2 separate regions of the Homo sapiens genome follow, and region 2 is linked to region 1. Evidence: fine-mapped expression QTL. A gene starts in region 1. The other region holds a variant in brackets. All regions are shown on one strand. Distances are between the middles of the regions.

What was found.
Region 2: its variant is fine-mapped to the expression of ATRNL1 in skeletal muscle (GTEx, PIP 0.92).

The regions. Positions count from the first base shown.
Region 1 is chr10:115,088,160-115,097,605 of GRCh38, reverse strand. It overlaps ATRNL1 (attractin like 1), which reads right to left and starts at 4,241. Exons shown (of 29, transcript NM_207303.4): 1 at 3,563-4,241. The coding sequence starts at 3,855. RefSeq lists silencers at 3,671-3,950, 4,041-4,170, 4,201-4,710.
Region 2 is chr10:114,995,255-115,004,700 of GRCh38, reverse strand. It overlaps LINC02626 (long intergenic non-protein coding RNA 2626), which reads right to left. Exons shown (of 3, transcript NR_120677.1): 2 at 9,163-9,258; 3 at 8,108-8,226. Among named protein-coding and RNA genes, the nearest start is that of LINC02626, 5.3 kb to the right of the region's middle. The variant C/T (reference allele first, on the strand shown) is at 4,366.

The sequences.
Region 1 (9,446 bases):
CACACTTTATTCTGCCCGTTTTTGTCTATAATAACAACCTAATTCCTGACATTATATCATTACATCTTCATTTTGCTGTCACTACAAATAGAATGCTTCATATATGTATATATAAATTTTTAAGAAGAGTCTCGCTCTGATACCCAAGCTGGAGCGCAGTGGCGTGATTACAGCTCACTGCAGCCTCAACCTCCTGAGCTCAAGGAATTCTTCCGCCTCACTCTCTCTTGTAGCTGTGACCACAGGTGTGTGCCACCATGCCCAGCTACTTTTAAAATATTTTTTGTAGAGATGAGGTCTCACTATCTTGCCCAGACTGGTCTCAAACTTCTGGGCTCAAGGGATCCTTCCACCTCGGCCTCCCAAAGTGCTGGGATTACAGGCCTGAGCCACGGCACCCAGCATACTTCCATTTTAAATGCGTGAAATGAAGTATCCAAATTTGACTAACCTAAGAGGGGTAAAAATATACCCCTTTATATTTGACTAATATAAAGAGCAATACTCTTTATATTTATATAAATTTATATAAATCTCTACTCTACAAAATTAATTCTCAAGGGCTCCCTTCTAAAAGAGAACGTCATTCAAATAGATTATAGCAGAATATTTTCTTGCTTAACATTACACTGAACTATTCAAATAAATACAACTTGAATTAGAGTCTGTATCTTTGATTATTATATTTCAAATATATTTTCCTATTCTCAATCCCAAGTCCTTTAGTCTAGCTTTGGGTGAAAAATCAATGTTCCTTTTGTTTTACCTGTGTAAGGAAGGAATGGCTTGTTATTCTGAGTGCTTTATTCTTTTCAAATGGAAACAGAAGACTGGAATCAATGCTAAGAGAACTGAAGTACCACTTTTGATACTATATTTGCTTCTGCATTTCTTCCCCCAACTATCAATCTTCTATCCTCAAGAAACATTTGAAGAACATTTTTATTCCCTGGCGAAATCCCTATAGTAGAAAAAAAGCTAAGTTACCATGGAGCCAACCAATTAATTTTGACACCTGCTTACCAAGATTGATCAATCATTTTTAATGTCTGTTTGTAAGGTTGCTATCCTTCAGTTTAGAAAAAGATTTTCAAGATAGTTAGTGAAGTGAGATTTTCTAGTTAAAGCCTTTCCCACTGTGTTATTACTTCAAATGCCAGGTAAAACAAGCTACTATCTTCAAATAAACCTTTCATAGGTTTATTTGCATGTACTTTACCAAGAAGAATTCTTTTCTACTATACATAATCCTTCTCTTTAACATTAAATACCAATGTGTTCTTTATCCCCAAGAGTATACATAATAAAAACACAGATCGTTACACCAGTTATATTTACTCTAATTAATAGCTTGTATTCCACAGAGAAATGCAAAAGCATTTACCCAATAGAGTACAATGAGTCCTAGGAAATAATAGCTTCCAAGGAAAAGATGAATACTCAGTGATTAGCTCAGGATTTATTGTTATTTAACAATATCTACATCAAATATCTATTCTTCTTCTACTCACTAATGTATTTTGTTTATGAACACCACCTCTCAATGTTATTTAAGCTAGTTTTAACTTGATCTGTGATCTTTTTAACTGGGACAACATCTGCTAGTGAGGTCACAGGCTGCTGATCCAGCTGATTAACAAGTTCCGCTACTTTAAAATGAAGCTTCTCAGGACTGCAGCAAATTTTGTCCTCTTTAGACAAACGGAGCAAACCCACCCACACAAAAGCCAATATCCCTACATATAAATCAGGCACTCTCCCTATTTATGTAAAAAAAATGTAAAAAATGGATGAGGCTTTTTCACTGCTGACTACCAGTTTACATGTTCAAAATTCTCTCTTGCTAGGTAAAGACGCTGAATTCTACTGTCATAGCAAACGTTTAAGAACACAAGCAAAAAAAAACAACTAACAAGCAGAATTCATTAAGATCTCTTTCCTCATCTTGAAACACTTTTTAAACTTTTAATCAGCATCTCTCCTAATTTTTTTAAAAAGTATTTTTAAAACTACATTACTATACTACCTTTAAAGTATAAACCCTAGAAAAATTTCAACCTATTGCATAAGTTTCATAAAACTTCACTTTAAGATTTCACTTCCAAAACCTACTAGTTAATTTAAATCATAGACTCTACCTAAAATTTTAAAGTGCCATTTTAAAAATATACATTTTTACATTGAGTTTTAAGGGACATTTATTTTAATCAGTAATAGTAAGTTTTTTTTTAAAAAAAAAAAAAAAGGAAAGTATGCTGTGTTTAAAATTCCAGGAAATTGTCCTAGAATACATTAATAAGGTGAACCAGTCTTACCTTTGCCTTAGAGCCCAAGAGAAATTTCACCTAGATTTTGGCTATCAGCCTAACAATATCAGTAATCTACAATATTCAAGAGCCACAAACCAGCCAGCAAACTTCATATTAAGTATCTAGAAGACTAAGAAGCTGACTTTCTTAATGACTGTTACCTGCATGTTGTTAGAAGCCTGCCCCAATATTAAGTGACTTTTGCTACTCCCCTACACTGTGACCCATTGCTTTTTATATCAGGCAAGAATGTAATAAACACCAACCAGTACGAAGAAAGTACCTTCACCTTAGCAAGCAAACTTCTTAGGCTCCTTGAGCTTCAAACAAGCCAAAGCGATGTTCCCGCACAAAAGCTGACAGTGAATTAACCGATCAGAAAAAAATCCATTATCCTCACCACATAAAAACGTCCTTCTATCTAACCTAAAGTCACCTTTGTATTTCTCAATTCAAGATTGTCCTAGCAAATACAACACAGCAAATTCGTTAAAAGTACACATTCTGGAGTGTGTACTGGCTCCAGAATGTGCCAGCTGATTTGGAATCATAACTCGGCCCTTACTACTGTGTAATCCTGGCCAAGTTACTTCAATGTATCGCCTCGATTTCTCTCCGTAAATCCAGCATAATAATTCTAGCAACTCACAGAGTTGTTGTAGGGAATAAATGAGAAAATTGACATAAAGCGCTTAGAAGAGTGTTTGGCACTTAGCAAGTCCATCATAAACTCTACTTATTAACATCACTATGATGACTAAATAAATGTTAGAAGGGGTCACCTCTAGAGAGAAGAGAATGGGGAAAGAGAGAGGCACTCATAGATCATAACTGAACCTTTACACTTTTGTGAATTTTTCACAATGCGCATGTATTTCATAAGTAACTTGGACAATTTCTGATTTTTAAATATTATCCCAAGAAAATGGTGCTGGGCATCATAACTGATTGTGAAAATGTTCGTGCTGAGCAGCGGATCAGAAGTCGCTGCGGACATCTGGAACGCTCGAGAAATGCCTAGCTCCCCGTTGGTCAGGGCTCCGCGCGGGCCCGAGCTCTCCCGGGGCGCCCCGGGGCTGGAGGGGGCGCGGCGCGGGCCCCACTCTCGCCCGCTCCCGCCGCGCGCTGAGGTTCACTCACGGCCGGGGGATCAGAGGCAGCGACGGGGGCGGGGGAGGCCGCGAGGGGGGCGGGGAAGGCCGCGACGGGAGCGAGGCAGGGCTGGAGGTTCGGGGTCCGGCGAAGGCACTTACTTGAACCTGCCCTGGCAGTGCTGGCACTGGTCCCCCACCCAGCCCGGGTCGCAGAGGCAGGTGGAGTTGACACAGCGGCCCGAGAAGCAGGAGCCGGTCCTCTCGCACGGCTTGGACTGGGACACCTGCGCGTAGAGCGCCAGGTAGAGGAAGCCATAGCACAGCAGCCAGCTGTTCCCGTCCAGCAGCCAGGAGGAGGCGCCCCCGCCGCCGCCGCCCGCCGGCCGAGCCCTCCACACCCCCGGGGCCGCTGGCTGCGGGGTACCAGTGCGGGCCCGGCCCCCAGTCTCCATCTTCCCCGGCGCCCCTGCCCGGCGAGACTGCGCTCGCGGGCGCCGACAGGGATGCTGTTGAAGGGAATTCCGGCCGCAGAAAACCTCTCCGCCGCCGCTTCTCCTCCTCCTCACCGGCGCCCGTCCGAGTCCCGCTCCCCGGTCAGGAGGGACAGATCCCAACCGCCGTCGCCTCCGCTCGGCTGCCTCCAGTCGCACTCGGGCATCGCCACCCAGTCTCCCGACCTTGTCCTTAGCGGGCCGACCCCACAGCCGCGGCGTCCCGGACCCGGCCGGAGGCGGGGAGCGGGAGGCGCAGACTGCGCCCGGCGCTCCTGAGGGGACCTGACCGGCAGGAGGAGGGGACCCCGCGCGCGGCCCCGCCTCGCCCGCGGCCCGCGCCAACTGCCTCGGCTCCGAGCGCCGCGCGCCCAGGAGGGCGGGGGCCGAGCGGGCGCCCCGAAGTGGGCGCGCCCAACGTGGAAGGGGGCGATCAAGGAGGCGGCGGTCAGCCCCGCCTCGCCCGCCCGGCGGTCAAGGGCGCCCCGGCAGCCATTCTGTCTCCGGTGCCTCGAGCCGGCCGCAGCGGCAGCGCCGGGAGCCCACGATGCGTGGGGCCGCCCCCCGCCCTCGCGCGCGCCTACACTCCTCCCCACAGGCCCGGCGCCTTGGTCTCGCCCCGCCCCTGACAGGGACCGGGGACTCCCCCACGCGCGCGCGCCCACCCCGCCTGGCCCGCGCGCTGACTGGAGACAGGCCCCCCAGGTGTGGCCCGCGTGCCCTTCCCCCCGGCCGGTGCGGGCACCCCGGCCCCACCCGCACCCCGCGCCCCGGGAGCCCCACGAATGAGAGATCGACACAGGCTTCGCAGCTTCAGCAGAAAAGAAGTCCTTCCCGTCCGCCGTCTGCAGCTGCAAAAGTGCAACGCTTTTTCCCTAGCGCTTCCCCCTTCCTCCGCCCCATCCTCCTGCCTATTTCTTCTTTTTCTCTTAAGAGAGAAAAACTCCAACAACACACAAAGAGCTGAGCATGTGCAGCAGGCAAAAGCCTTAAAGGCACCGCAGTCCGACCACGTTGTGGGGTCAGCGAGGGCTGGGAGGGGCGGGGATTGGGGACTGCGAGAGGCGCGAGGCGGTCTCCGCGGAGGGACCTCCGAGGGGGAGCCATTGCTGCCTCGGGAATAACGAAGCCCGCGCCCCCAACAAAGAACTGCGAGGCTCCGAGCCCCGCGCTCTCCACCCCTTACAGACGCTGCCTCGAAACCGCACGTCTCTCCTTTTCTGCTTGTCAGTGCTCCCTCCTCCATCTGGGACGATATTCTGCCTTGAAAAATATTGCAGCATCGGGGCTTTTTTTCAGAAGAGCAGAAGTGATGCCCACAAAAGGGCCGTTTTCCTTCCTCAGCAGCACTTTTTCTTCTTCAGATGACTTTCCAAGATTGGCTGGCATATTCTGAGATTTTTGTTTTGTACTTTGGTGCCTTCTCTAAACAGTTGCCTTTTTATTTGACCCCCTTGAGAAAGGAAGCCAAACACACATTGCAGCCATATATCCTCGAGTTACAGCAATGTTGCTGGAGTCCCACCAAAGAACAGGCAGTATGAAAAAGAATTCAAAATCCACCAAAGGCACTTCTCACAGAAAAAAAAAAAAAGAAGAAAGAAAAGTTTGTTGTAACTACATAGTCAAAATATTATTGTTAGGATTCAACTCGTGTTTATTTCGCGTCAGTTCTTTTCATGTCTCTTATCCCCACTTGCAGATGAAATCCTCCATTAACCCCATTTTGCAGATGAGAAAGAGCAACTCAGAAAGGTTGAAATATTGGCCAATGGCAGGTTAGGAGTAATGAACTGAGCTTTAGACACGAGGCCTCTGACTGCTGTGCTTTTTTCACTGCTTCTATTAGCAGATGCTTTGTTCTTCCTTCGGTGAATAAAATATACGTGTTGGCTTGGTTTAAAAATACCTCAGCAGTGACTTAAGGAGGAAAAAATAAAAACAAAGATCCAGAAGGAGTTGGCTCCTTCGCAAGGAAAAGAGCAAAAGGAAAACCACGATTCTCGTTGGCATACAGAACAAATCATAATTTCCATAATTTCAGGGTTTTACCAGTATCAAAAATGTCCTTATCAAACCTAGAATTAGGATGCCCTCTTCTTCCCTTAACATCTTTTCCACATCAGGCTGCCCCTTAGAGACTTCTTGAAATGAGTGAAGAAGCAGAGGAGAGAACACTGCAGACACCAGTTAAAAGGAAGATCCTGTTCTGGATCACATCTTTTCATTTCAATGACTGTGAAATCCAGAAGAATTCTTTCTAGTGTCAGCCATGCATGAACACTGTCTGCTGCTTTTCCATTCTTCTCCATCTGCCAGCCAAAGTCAGCCGCATCTTTCTCACATCTAAGGTAGAGTCGCTTTCAGACGTGGGGAAAGTGGCCAAACTCTTAAAACCGTCAGTGAGTGTGAAGGTAATTCAAAGGGTGCGCTGTAGTCCCTTTGACGAGAGAGATCACAGCTCAGTCACATACTGACTGTAGCCTGTATTTGAGCAGAGCTTGCCCATTAAAAATATACTCATAAGTGGGAGTTGAACAATGAGAACACATGGACAGAGGGAGGGGAACATCACACACCAGGGCCTGTTGTGGGGTGGGGGGCTAGGGGAGAGATAGCATTAGGAGAAATACCTAATGTAGATGACGGGATGATGGGTGCAGCAAACCACCGTGGCACGTGTATACCTATGTAATAAACCTGCACGTTCTGCACATGTATCCCAGAACTTAAAGTATAATAATAATTTTAAAATACATATCTTTTAATTGAATAACCACTATAATCAGCTCAGTACTTCACATTACACTGAAGAACATGCAGCCCCACGGGCCTCCTCTCAACATTGCCTTTAGAATCAAGCTGAATATATTAAATTTATATGAATTATTCTCACAAGGATCTCAGAATTTTCACTCACCTTGTATTTTGTTTCTCTCTCAAACACTTTTAGTCAACACTTACTGAGTAACTATTATGAATTTAAGCAAGAGAAAACAAATATGAATAAAGCATGATTTCTACCCCAGATTAGCTTATCTTCTATCAAGCTCACTAGACTGTGAGCTCATTATACAGTTGAGTGTCATATACTTTACAAATGTAGACACAGAAAACTTAAATTATTTTATATGGTCACACAAAAACTCAATGGCAAAGTTTGCCTAGAATCATGAGTTATGTTTCAGTACCTTCTATGATCAAGAAATGTTAAAGCTCCAACATATTTTCTTTTTTTCCAATTAAGTAGGGTCAGCCTCCTAGAAGTGCTATATCATACTGAAATAATTAATAGTATTGGTAATAGCAGTCATAAATCTAGCAAAAAGGTGAAAATTTACTCCAAAGCCATACTGGGGGAAAATTCACCCTACGGAAGTAGGATGAAACTGTTAAGAATTATCTATTTTAAATTCATCCAAGGGGAAAGATAAGAAAAGACTATTTGTTTTCTTTAGCCTTATATCAGGACCGTTAGATATTTTGAGGTGTATGTTTCATTTCCATTCATACTACTTAACAATGATGTTATAATATGATGGGCAAAAATCTGACATCACATCACCAGATTGTTTAAAGGAAATTTAAGTGATTTTTTAAGAGAACAAGAGAAATGATAGATCCAATATCTTTTGATTGCTACTCAAAAAGTAAAAGATCCTATTTGGGCTAATGAACCAAAGCAGACTCTTTTCAGTTGCTTAATTTAAGAATCTCTGTTCTCTGGTTATTGTTCACCCTTTGGCTTATATGAGGCTTCTGAAAGCAACCAAGATAATGAGAACTACAGATAGCGTGGCCTCAAAAGCTAGAAATGCATTCACTCAAAGGGACCCACAGCGAAACTGGGGCAGTATTCTTAAGACACAAATAGATGATGAATGGTCTGTAACGTTAGACAGTTTAAAAAAACAACCATCAAATTTAGGTACTTATTAAAAAATTATTGATGATATTTAAAATGTTTATATGGCTATGGATCTGAAACACCACCACCGTCCCAATCAAAATCTAACATTCTGCTTTCTCTTGGATTCATTCTTTTCTTCCATCGGTTTCCCTTGCTGTCACAGTTGCAAACACACACATACACTTCTGCCAATTTTTCTACTTAACACATTTCAAACATATTGTTATAAGTAAATCCAAGGAAATAAATCCAAAGATTATAAATTCACTATGCTGGGCTACTACATTCTTTTTTAGCTGGGAAATAAAATGAACATCCTTAAACTTTTAATCCTAAATATTCAGTCTTGTCACCAAAAAAAGTTGATTGCTAATAGCCAATTGCAGAAACTTGTCTTTAGTGAAATCTAATTCAATAAAAATATGGGCTAGGGCTTCCTGATAAACAAAGTAGATCAAGTATGTGCATTTACCTCTGCTCCCTCTGGAAACTCTGCCAACATGATAGGAAAGGTTTTTGTTTTTTGTTTTTTCTTTTAATTTTTTTCAGGTATAAACTCACAATGATAAAGAAAATGAGAAAACAGCCAACTTGCAGATGAGAGGTGACAAGGCATTTGGAAGTGTCAATGAAGGAGAAAAGTGAATTGAGACGTAATAACTAAAACATACACACCATCAGAGATAAGTAACAACAAGAAACAAATCTGTTTCTCCCAAAGATCCCCAGAAAGCCTCAGGACTCAGATGCAAGAGTTACCAGGAAGGCAGAGGTGGGGCTCTAGGATAAAAATAAGGGGAATGGTTGAGAGCAGAATAAGGACCCATACTCTCCCTCTCATCCCAAGAAGCTAAACACTACCCCAAACCCAGCCCTGACAGAGGTTTAATCTCTTGAGAAATTGAATCAGAGGCTCCAGACTTGGAACACCAGGCAAGGTAGAAGGAGGGAGTGAAGTATACAGCTGGAACTTGAGAGACTAAGTGAAAATCTACATAATGAATGATAAAATTTCCCTGCCATCTTTTCCTCCGGTTCCCAGAACATCAATAATCAAATGAATAACCCCCAGACAGAAAACTGAAGGATATTTATCTGCAGACGTTTAATGGTTCCAAGACAAAAGATACTGTCATTTGGCATCTTCCAACCAAATGAAAATCCAGCTTCTGGATCACTATACAGTGAAGCCTGATAGTTAATAAGCTTTGCCTAATCCTTTTTTCCATAATTTTCTCCTAAATAAGGACAGTAAATGTTCACTAGACATAAAAGATAGAAACAAAACAAAGAAAATGAAATTAAAGGAAACAAAGTCAAATGATACGCAAAGATTGTGCACCATAAAACAAAAGTGGATATTCTTTAAAAATAATAATAATAAGGGGACAATCAGAAAACAAAAATATAAATAAATAAGTAAATAAATAAGCAGTAACCAAACTTAAAATGCAATAAAATTTGGGAAAATAAAGTGTAGGAAATTTCCTAGAAATTATAATGAAAAGGTAAAGAAAGTTTCTCCTTTATCATGAAGGAAAAACTAAGAAAATTAGAGAATTCATGAATAGATAGTATTTTAAATTAAGCATTTATACTATGAATGCATGTATTAATATGAGAGTACATTAATACACAACAT
Region 2 (9,446 bases), 93 kb after region 1:
GTAGGAAGAAAGGAAGGAAGGAAGGAAGGAAGGGAGGAAATGAGGAAGGAAAGAAGGGAAGGAAAGAAGGGAGGAAGGGAGGGAGGAAGGGAAAGGAAGGGGAGGGGAAAGGAAGGGAAGAGGAAGGAAGGGAAGAGGAAGGGAAGGAGAGGGAGAAGGGAAGGGGAGGGGAGGGGAAGGGAAGGGAGGGGAAGGGAAGGGAGGGGAAGGGAAGAGAATGGAAGGGAGGAAGGAGGGAGGGAGGGAGAAACGGAGGGAGGGAGGGAAGCAGGCAGGCATGCATTGTGCTTTTCCTGTTGGGTGGCTGCCAGACAGAGTCCATCCTCTACTGGAGGAAGAAGGACCTTCCATTTGCTCTCTTCTTTCTGCTGGGAAAGGCCCTTGTGTCTCACCTTGCAGGAAAGGTTGACTTCTCAGCACATTTGCGTCCTCCAAACTCTAAGAGAAGGAGAAAAGGCGACCTGGCAAAGATGGAAACATCCTTGAGTCAGAAGCCCTTCTTGTGAAAGCTGCCAGGATGTATTCAGTGGCCCCTGAGTCCTTCCAGTGAACCAGTTTCTGAGTAGGAGATGATGACAGCCCTTTCCTAGCCCTTTGCAGGTTGGTGTGATTGCTCTGCAGAGAAGAGGACCTGGCAGGCTTTCGGGCCCCTGAAGGTATTCAAACTTCAGTGCCAATAAATGGACGTGGAAAAGCAGCCCTGGGGAACCAGAAGAGTTGAGGTAGAGCTCCTCTATCAGCTGGCAGTTCAGAGGCTGTTTCCTCCAGAAAGCCCTCCCTGGTCCCTGGTCTGGGTAAGGCAGCTCTGAGTTCTTGCAGCTGCAGCCTCCTCCACCTCCACGTGGATGAAGTTTCATTAGGCACAGCTCTTCCATCCCACCTGTGTGCTTCCTGGGTATGGACGATGTGTGTTTCACCTCACGACCCTTTGGAGTCTAAGTCCAGGGACCATATCACCCATTGCTAAGGAAGGTCCTCCTTCCTTCTAGTTTTTGCTATGCACCCATGTCCCTGTTGCGTACATACTATCTAACAATGCTGTGCTTGGGCATTGCTTTCAGGAAGAGAGGAGTCAGCATGTTCTGTGGAATGTTATGAAGAATCAAAACAGTTAACAGTTTGTCACTGGCATGCAGTCAAAAGATAAGACATATTGGAGAAAGAATCTGTTACAAGCTCTTTATTCTAATAGCCAATTAGACTTAGAGTGAAATAAGAGACCAGAAACTGGATGACAAGAAGTGAAGACTATTCAATAACAATTAGGCATGAGATAAATTCTGAGATAGAGAAATGAATAATTTGAAAGAAACATAACATCAGCTATACTGAACATATTTTTGTAGGAATAAGAAAGGAACCAGGGAATTTTCCAAAGATATTTGATTGTTAAAAACCTTACTTAGGTGTACTACTTCCAAAATGAATAAGAAGATAGAAATGAAGGCTTCAGAAACAAAATACAGGATCTGAGAAAACAGGCTGGGCACGGTGGCTCATGCCTGTAATCCCAGTGCTTTGGGAGGCTGAGGTGGGTGGATCACCTGAAGTCAGGAGTTCAAGGCAAGCCTGGTCAACATGGCGAAACTCTGTCTCTACTAAAAATACAAAAATTAGGCATGGTGGTGCATGCGCCTGTAATCCCAGCTATTCGGGAAGCTGACAGGAGAATCGCTTGAACCTGGGAGGCAGAGGTTGCAGTGAGCCGAGACCACAGCCACTGTACTCCAGCCTGGGTGACAAAGTGAGACTCTGTTTCAAAAAAAATAAAAATAAAAAGATCTGAGAAAACATAATCAAATACTTCTCTGAAGAATTTCAACACTGAAATGGCCTCTCTTTTGTCACACATGGCTAAAAAATCTCCTTATATTGGGTTCTGAAGCATTTTCATGGAGCATGATCTGTGAGTTACTATACACAGCATCATAAATGCAATTGTTGACATTTTTTAAAGGGAAACAAGCATATCTATTCTACCAGGTTTGTGAAGGAATAGAAACATAAAGGCCAACCCTTTAGCTATATCCATACACGGGGTTCATATTCTGCATGAAGAGCCTATTAACTTTTGCATATTTAGGGTCCCCAGTCAGAGCTTCCAGCCTTTTTTGCAAAGTTTGGTTGGGCAATGCTGTGACCCATTCCAGCATCTACCATCCCACCTGAGAAAAGGTGGTCATTGAGATATGGCAATTGTTCTTTTATCCAGTTGGGTGAGGCCATTGAAAATGTGGATCTTGTTCTGAAGCTCTCTAATTTCATGTTTGAAGCACAAAGCTTGGGCCTTGGCTGAGCAAACAACCTCAAGAGGCACTATGGCAACCTTGGCTTCCATAAAATTGTTTTTCCAAGAGAGTGGAAGTGGATGCCCAATGTCTTGTAGCTCCTTTGAGTACCAGGTGATTCTAAAGAATCATTTGCTGTTTGACCCAAAGAAACGTGACTGCCAGAGGGAAGAAAGCCAATTGAGCTGAGAAAAGCAGTATTTAAAGACCAAGGCAGGAAATGAAGCAGTGAGCAGTTGCTAGAGCAGCAGCACCTGCGTATGATGAGCAAAGTATCTGACCACTGGCACATCCGTAGCCAGCTCTGTTGAATCCCCTATTATAATTCTGATTTCTCTCACTCAGTTCAGGGATTTGGAATTGGGCAGCCAATTCTGTGTTTACCTTGGTAGTAACACTCCTGCATATGCAGTAGTGTCAGGAAGTGAGTATTGTTACAAGCAGAACATCTGGTGGAGGAACATATTATCAATCCTGTAATAGATAAAAGAACCACAATCCTAAACCCTCAAATTCATTTTTTGGCTTTCCTGAGAGAACTGAGAATTGTGGGTAACCTTGAGGAGGGAAGGAAACAAGCTTCACTGAAGCTGGGCTCATTTTCAGCTGTCAGTGGAAAAACACAAGGCTGCACCAGTCTCCGCTGAAACTCTCAGACTCGGCCAGTAGTTGTTTTCCAGCTTCTTGTTACCTTTGAAATCCAAACATTTTCGATTTCTTCCTTTCTGCTGTGCCAGCAAGACGGAGCTAAGTGAGACAGTTTGCACCAGGAAGGCGCCACAATTATGCACTGTGTCACCACCGGACACGCAGCTGGGGAATGTGCAGGGCGCCTGCAGCCGAGGGGCCAGAGTGTGCTTTTGAAGACGTGATCATAGCCACTTTCAGTTCATCTTGCCTTAAATCAGTGGACAAAAAGAGGCAGCTGACACTCCGCTTGTAAGGGATAGTAACACCATAATAAATCACATTTTTTCTGTGCCAGTTTTCTACCTTGCCCTAATTTCATAGATGAAATCACATGTGTAAAACTGACTTTGCAATTTAGCTCTGAAGTCCAGAAAGGCTACCCAGGGAGCACCGTGCCTTTTTTTATACTTATTCCCTGATATATTAAATCACCTAGAAAGCTGGAGGAAAAAGCTCTCCTGCCTGAGCAAGTGCAAGGAGGGTGCCATCTGAAGGATAGTCCAACATTGTAAAGCTGAGTGCAAGTGGAAGACCTAGGAGTAATAAGAATAACAATTATCATCTTTCTATTTTTAACCTCAGATGCAGTGAGTTGATTAATTTACACTCCTCAGTTCATGGCACATTTTTATTGTTACTCCTTCTGATTCCTACTCGTTTCATGTATTTGTTTAGGTTCCATTACAGCTTACGGACTTACCCCCACTCCAGCCACCACCCCATAGGGTAACCGTTCGAGTATGTTTAATATACATGTATCTATTTGTATGTGTTCTTACAAATTGTGTAAGCATATATTATCAATTTACATAATGGTACCGTGTTATGTATCTTTCCCTTTCCTTTTTCACTCAGGTCGGTTTTTAAGATCCAACTTTGTTGCCATGTGTATATTGAGTCTATTGATTCTAATTGCTTCAGAATACTCCATGACTCTTATCTCTTCATTAGGTGATTACTATATGCCAGATTCAGTACTAAGTGATTTAGGTATATTGATAACTTGGATTACCAATAACATTGAGAGTGTGAAGCATTTGTGTTCATCAAAAGGGATGTGAGTTTCTCAGAAGGCCTAAGAGACCTGGCTCTCTGGAGGTATTTTCTTTCTTTCTTTTTCTTTCTTTTCTTTCCTTTCTTTCTTCTTTCTTTTTCTTTCTTTCCTTTTCTTTCTTTCCTTCCTTCCTTCTCTTCCTTCCTTCCTTTCTTTCCTTCTCTCTTTCTTTCTTTGTCTCTTTCTTCTTTCCTTTTCTTTTTTCTTTTTTGTTTGTTTGTTTTAAGAAAAGTCTTGCTCTGTCGCCCAGGCTGGCATGCAGTGGCGCAATCTTGGCTTACTACAACCTCCACTTCCCGGATCCAGGCTATTCTCCTGACTCAGCCAACTGAA[C/T]AGCTGGGATTACAGGTGCCTGTCACCATGCTCGGCTAATTTTTGTATTTTTAGTAGAGACGGGATTTCGCCATTGGCCAGGCTGGTCTCAAACTCCTGACCTCAGGTGATCTGCCCACCTCGGCCTCCCAAAGTGCTGGGATTACAGGCGTGAGCCTGCCTCTCTGGAGGTATTTTCAGGGGCTAGATCGCCAGCCACTTTACCAGCTCACTGTCTCTGCTGTCATGGGTCTCTCTCTTCTGTACAGTGACTTTCCCTCTGCCTTGCTTTCCTTTTCACATCTGTCTGAACAACTCCTAATTTGCTAGCCCAGGGGGCTCCTTATTTTTTTTATTAATTTTTTTCGGTCCCAGTCTTCTGTGAGCACCAGTCTAGCGATTTAAAGCATGAGCTCTGGGATCAGCCCATCCGGGTTCAAATCCTAGCTCTACGTTAACCAGTTGGTGTAACCTGAGGCAAACTGCTTAATCTAGCTGCACCTCATATCCTCATCTGTAAGATGGGGATGATGACACCTACTCTATAGGGTTGCCGTGAGAATTAAACAGGGTGTTACAGTGCCAGGCATGCAGTAACTGTTCAGTAAGTATTTTTTACTTTTCTGGTCCCTTTGCCTGGAATAACACATATACCAAACAAATCTTGCAAATAATTTCAAAAGGTATCTAAAATTGCTCTTTTTTAAGGTTACCAACCTTAAAATTCAAATTCAAGTTCTCCAGGTCCAACGATTACCCTTCTGTTCCGGTCCTGCTACTTCCTTCAGCAGCACTGGCCAGCCCCCACTTTTTGAAAGTCTTTATCCCGTGAGTCCCAGGAATCTACTCTTTCTGGGCTTTCCTCCTGCCTCAGAGGTCCGATTTTGAATGACTAAGGACCCAGAAGCCATTTAGCTTCTTTATCTACGCTCTCCCTGGAATAACCTTCTTATCCTGTCCCCTGGGTTTAAACATCAGCCACACACTGATGAATCTCAGATCATCAGCCCCTATCTCTCCCTTAAGCCTTGAGCTCACCTTAAGGGCCATCCATCGGATATCCAGCACCCGTCAAACCCAGCATGTGCACAAGCAGAGTCTTCATTTCCTCTGGACTTGCAAACTTGCCTCTTCCGCAGTCTCACTTACCTCTGCCAGTTGTGCGGAGAATAGACTCATGCAGGGAGAGAAAGGAACTCCCCGCAGGAGTCCAGGAGAGAGAGGTTTGTGGCTTGGACTGGAGTTGTGGCAGCAGAAAAGATGAGCAGTGGTCACATAACCAGATTCTTTGGGCAAGGGATGGGGTGAAGATGCAGACTAGGAGCCAGGAGCCAAAACTCCATGTACGCGAGACAGGCAAGGTTAAGACAGAAACAGTAAATTTCACATCAAAGACTGTTAAGGGCAAACTACAGGGAATGTTATGGGGACCCAAAAGAATGTGTGTTTTGCTACTTACCATTGCATAGGTACAGGGAAAAGAAGACTCTTTATGAGACAGTTTTTAGGGAAGATGGGTTACAAAGTGAATGGTATAATGCAGAATGTTTATGTATGTATATATGTGTGTATATGTACACACATTATTATATACACACATATATACATATTTATGTCTATATACACATATATACATATTTATGTCTATATACACATATATACATATTTATGTCTATATACACATATATACATATTTATGTCTATATACACATATATACATATTTATGTCTATATACACATATATACATATTTATGTCTATATACACATATATACATATTTATGTCTATATACACATATATACATATTTATGTCTATATACACATATATACATATTTATGTCTATATACACATATATACATATTTATGTCTATATACACATATATACATATTTATGTCTATATACACATATATACATATTTATGTCTATATACACATATATACATATTTATGTCTATATACACATATATACATATTTATGTCTATATACACATATATACATATTTATGTCTATATACACATATATACATATTTATGTCTATATACACATATATACATATTTATGTCTATATACACATATATACATATTTATGTATATATTTATGTATATATGTGTGTATATGTACATACATATATACATACATAAATACATATATATGTATCTCCCATTTTAATTTTTAAAAATTATAAGATATTTCAAACATGCAGAAAATTCTCATGTTACAAATCTTCTTACACCTACCACCTGGCTTTAATGTATGCACCCTTTTAATGGCACCTACCTATGTGTATTAGTGTTTCTTCTCTTTCTCCTCCTATATTATAGAGAGGTGCCTGAAGGCAGGGGCTTGACCTCCTCTTTGTGTCTCAGGAGCATCTTGCACAGCGTCTGTATACCTTAGACCCCCTAATTGTTGCTGAATTGAATTGAGTTCTTGAAAGACCTCAAAGAGGCCTTCAGGAAAAAGGAAAGTGTAGCAAGCAGCACATACGATTCTCACAGATTTGAGAAGCTGCAGCTATTTTTAAGGTGTATTAATTCAGAAGGAATTACTGGAAGTGAAAATAGGACAGCTGCATCTTGTGGCATATAACATTGAAAACTTACTTCATAGACTGATATCCTTGACTAATATTTCTGATTCCAGAATTAAAGCCACAGGCAACCTGAATCCCAGCTTTCCACGATTTCTGTGCCCTCCTACAAATGATAAGTTTATTTATTATGAAAGATCTTTAGCTGATAACAATTTACCATCAGCTACATCAGGTGCATTAGACGTTTATGCCCTTTGTCGAGTCCCAGTGGTTTTGTCTTCTGCCCTGACCTCCCTTTACCTGCTACAAATGCAGGAAAGTGTTGTACTGCCTGAAATATTAGAATTCTACCATATTGCTCCTTGGCACAGAGCTACCTCAATGACTTACCAGAATTTCCAGAATTCAAAGAAGAATTTGCTATATACCAAGGTAAATGAGACCTTGGCAAGCTTTCTAGCTAGTGGTAATGGCATCTGGCTTGCCCTGGATGGTCCCAGTTGTAGATCAGTGAATTATTCTCAGCTTCCTCTTCACTCTCAAAAGTGTCTCTGGGCCAGGCATGGTGGCTTACGCCTGTAATCCCAGCAGTTTAGGAGGTCGAGGTGGGCGGATCACCTGAGGTCAGGAGTTTGAGACAAGCCTGGCCAACATGGTGAAACCCCATCTCTACAAAAAACACAAAAATTAGCTGGGCATGGTGGTGGGCGCCTATAGTCCCAGCTACTCAGGAGGCTGAGGCATGAGAATCGCTTGAACCCGGGAGGCGGAGGTTGCAGTGAGCTGTGATCACGTCACTGCACTCCAGCCTAGGCAACAGTGAGACTCGATCTCAAAAAAAAAAGTGCCTCCGGTTTAGCTCATAAATTATATGATCACTCTATTAATCCCCCACCTAAACTTTTTACATCATAGTACCTGCCTTCTGTGGATGGGACTTCCATTTTTTAAATTTCTGCAGTGTCCCATTAAGTGGATTAAATAAAAGCCTTTGATTTGTTAAAGGAAGACACACTAGACATCACAAACCACTCTTTATTTTTGGCATTCCGCTTTCTGAACATAACACAAACCAAAATAACCCGAGATGTTACCATGATGAATCATGCCGACATGACATAGCTGCTTTCCATGGGGAAAATGTAAACCATCAAAAAAAAAAAAAACCAAAAAAAAAACAATAAGACTAAAATTTAAATTACACGGTAAAAAATGTTCAACATTTATAGTCCTGGACCATTTACTGAATTTAATTGAAAACCAGCTTAAATTTCAAAAACAGCAACAACAATTCAGGCTGCCTTTTTTTATTACACATTGGATTGCTCCTTGTCTCTTCGCTTCATCTATATCGGGTCAAAAAAAGAAAAAGAAAAAATAATAATACAACACTGGAATCATGTGAAGTTATAACAATATTTTCAGCCCAGCAATTTCAGCCCAATTTTCAGCAGTAATGTTTCATTAGAATCAAACATTTCCTAGATGGTTTAAAAACACAATGAAAATCTGGCACTTTGAGAGCTTGTGTGAATACAGCTTTAACTTCTTATTTTCAAAGAAAAATGAGATTTAACATTAAAAAACTAAAGCAATGCCCCTGAAGGTTCTTCCCTTAAAAAAGAAAGGAAGCTCAGCCTGCTGTACACATTAAATAATTAAAATCAATGATCCTTTTAAGCCTTTAGCAATGCATGAACCAATAGGGAGAAGCAATCTAATACTTCATGCATTTGGGGGATTGCATTAGAAAGACTGCTAGTCTGCTTCTGCTTTTATAAATGCAAATGTATGCAGAGCAGACAGATTGGGATCTGTACAATTTAGCAATGATCGAAACTTGTAATTTTTGAAAATGGGACAGATGTCCAGTCTAGTTATATTAAGATGCTTCTTATTGAAGAAGAAACCAAACCAAACAAACAATTCAATGCCACCTCCTCTTTTAACCGGAAACAAATAAACAAAGGCATCACAAATTAGAAAAAGTTATATACCATCTTGTTTCTTTCATGGATTGTTAAGTTGAGAGGCAGCTTCGGGTAGTGGAATAAACATTTCCAGCATGTATCACTGCATTACTCATCTTTCTGTCCCTAAAACACAGGAATGAAGGGAAATATTTCCCCATTCAAGGACCGGGGTGGGCTTAAGTCTAACTTCCAGAGTAGCCAGGTCTCTGGTTCTGTAGACTATGCTCTCCTTGAACCACAGACAGGAAGGCAGCCCAGAGTCAGGGCAGTCAATAAATACATGCTGAATGAAAGCCTTTGTTTACTCACTGAAAGTTGCTGAGTGCTCGTCATCTTTTCACGTTTGTAATATCACAGCTCCAGAGGTTTATTTCATGATGGCGAGTGCCTAGAATGTGCCACAAACTGGGGAAATAAAGGTGAAAACATGGCATTTACTCTTGAAGAGCCCGCAGTCTGGTGGGAAAGCCAGATAAGTAAATATACGATTAAGATGAGTGCTAGCGGCTGGGCATGGTGGCTCACGCCTATAATCCCAGCACTTTGGGAGACTGAGACGGGCGAATCGCCTGAGTCCAGGAGTTCAAGACTAG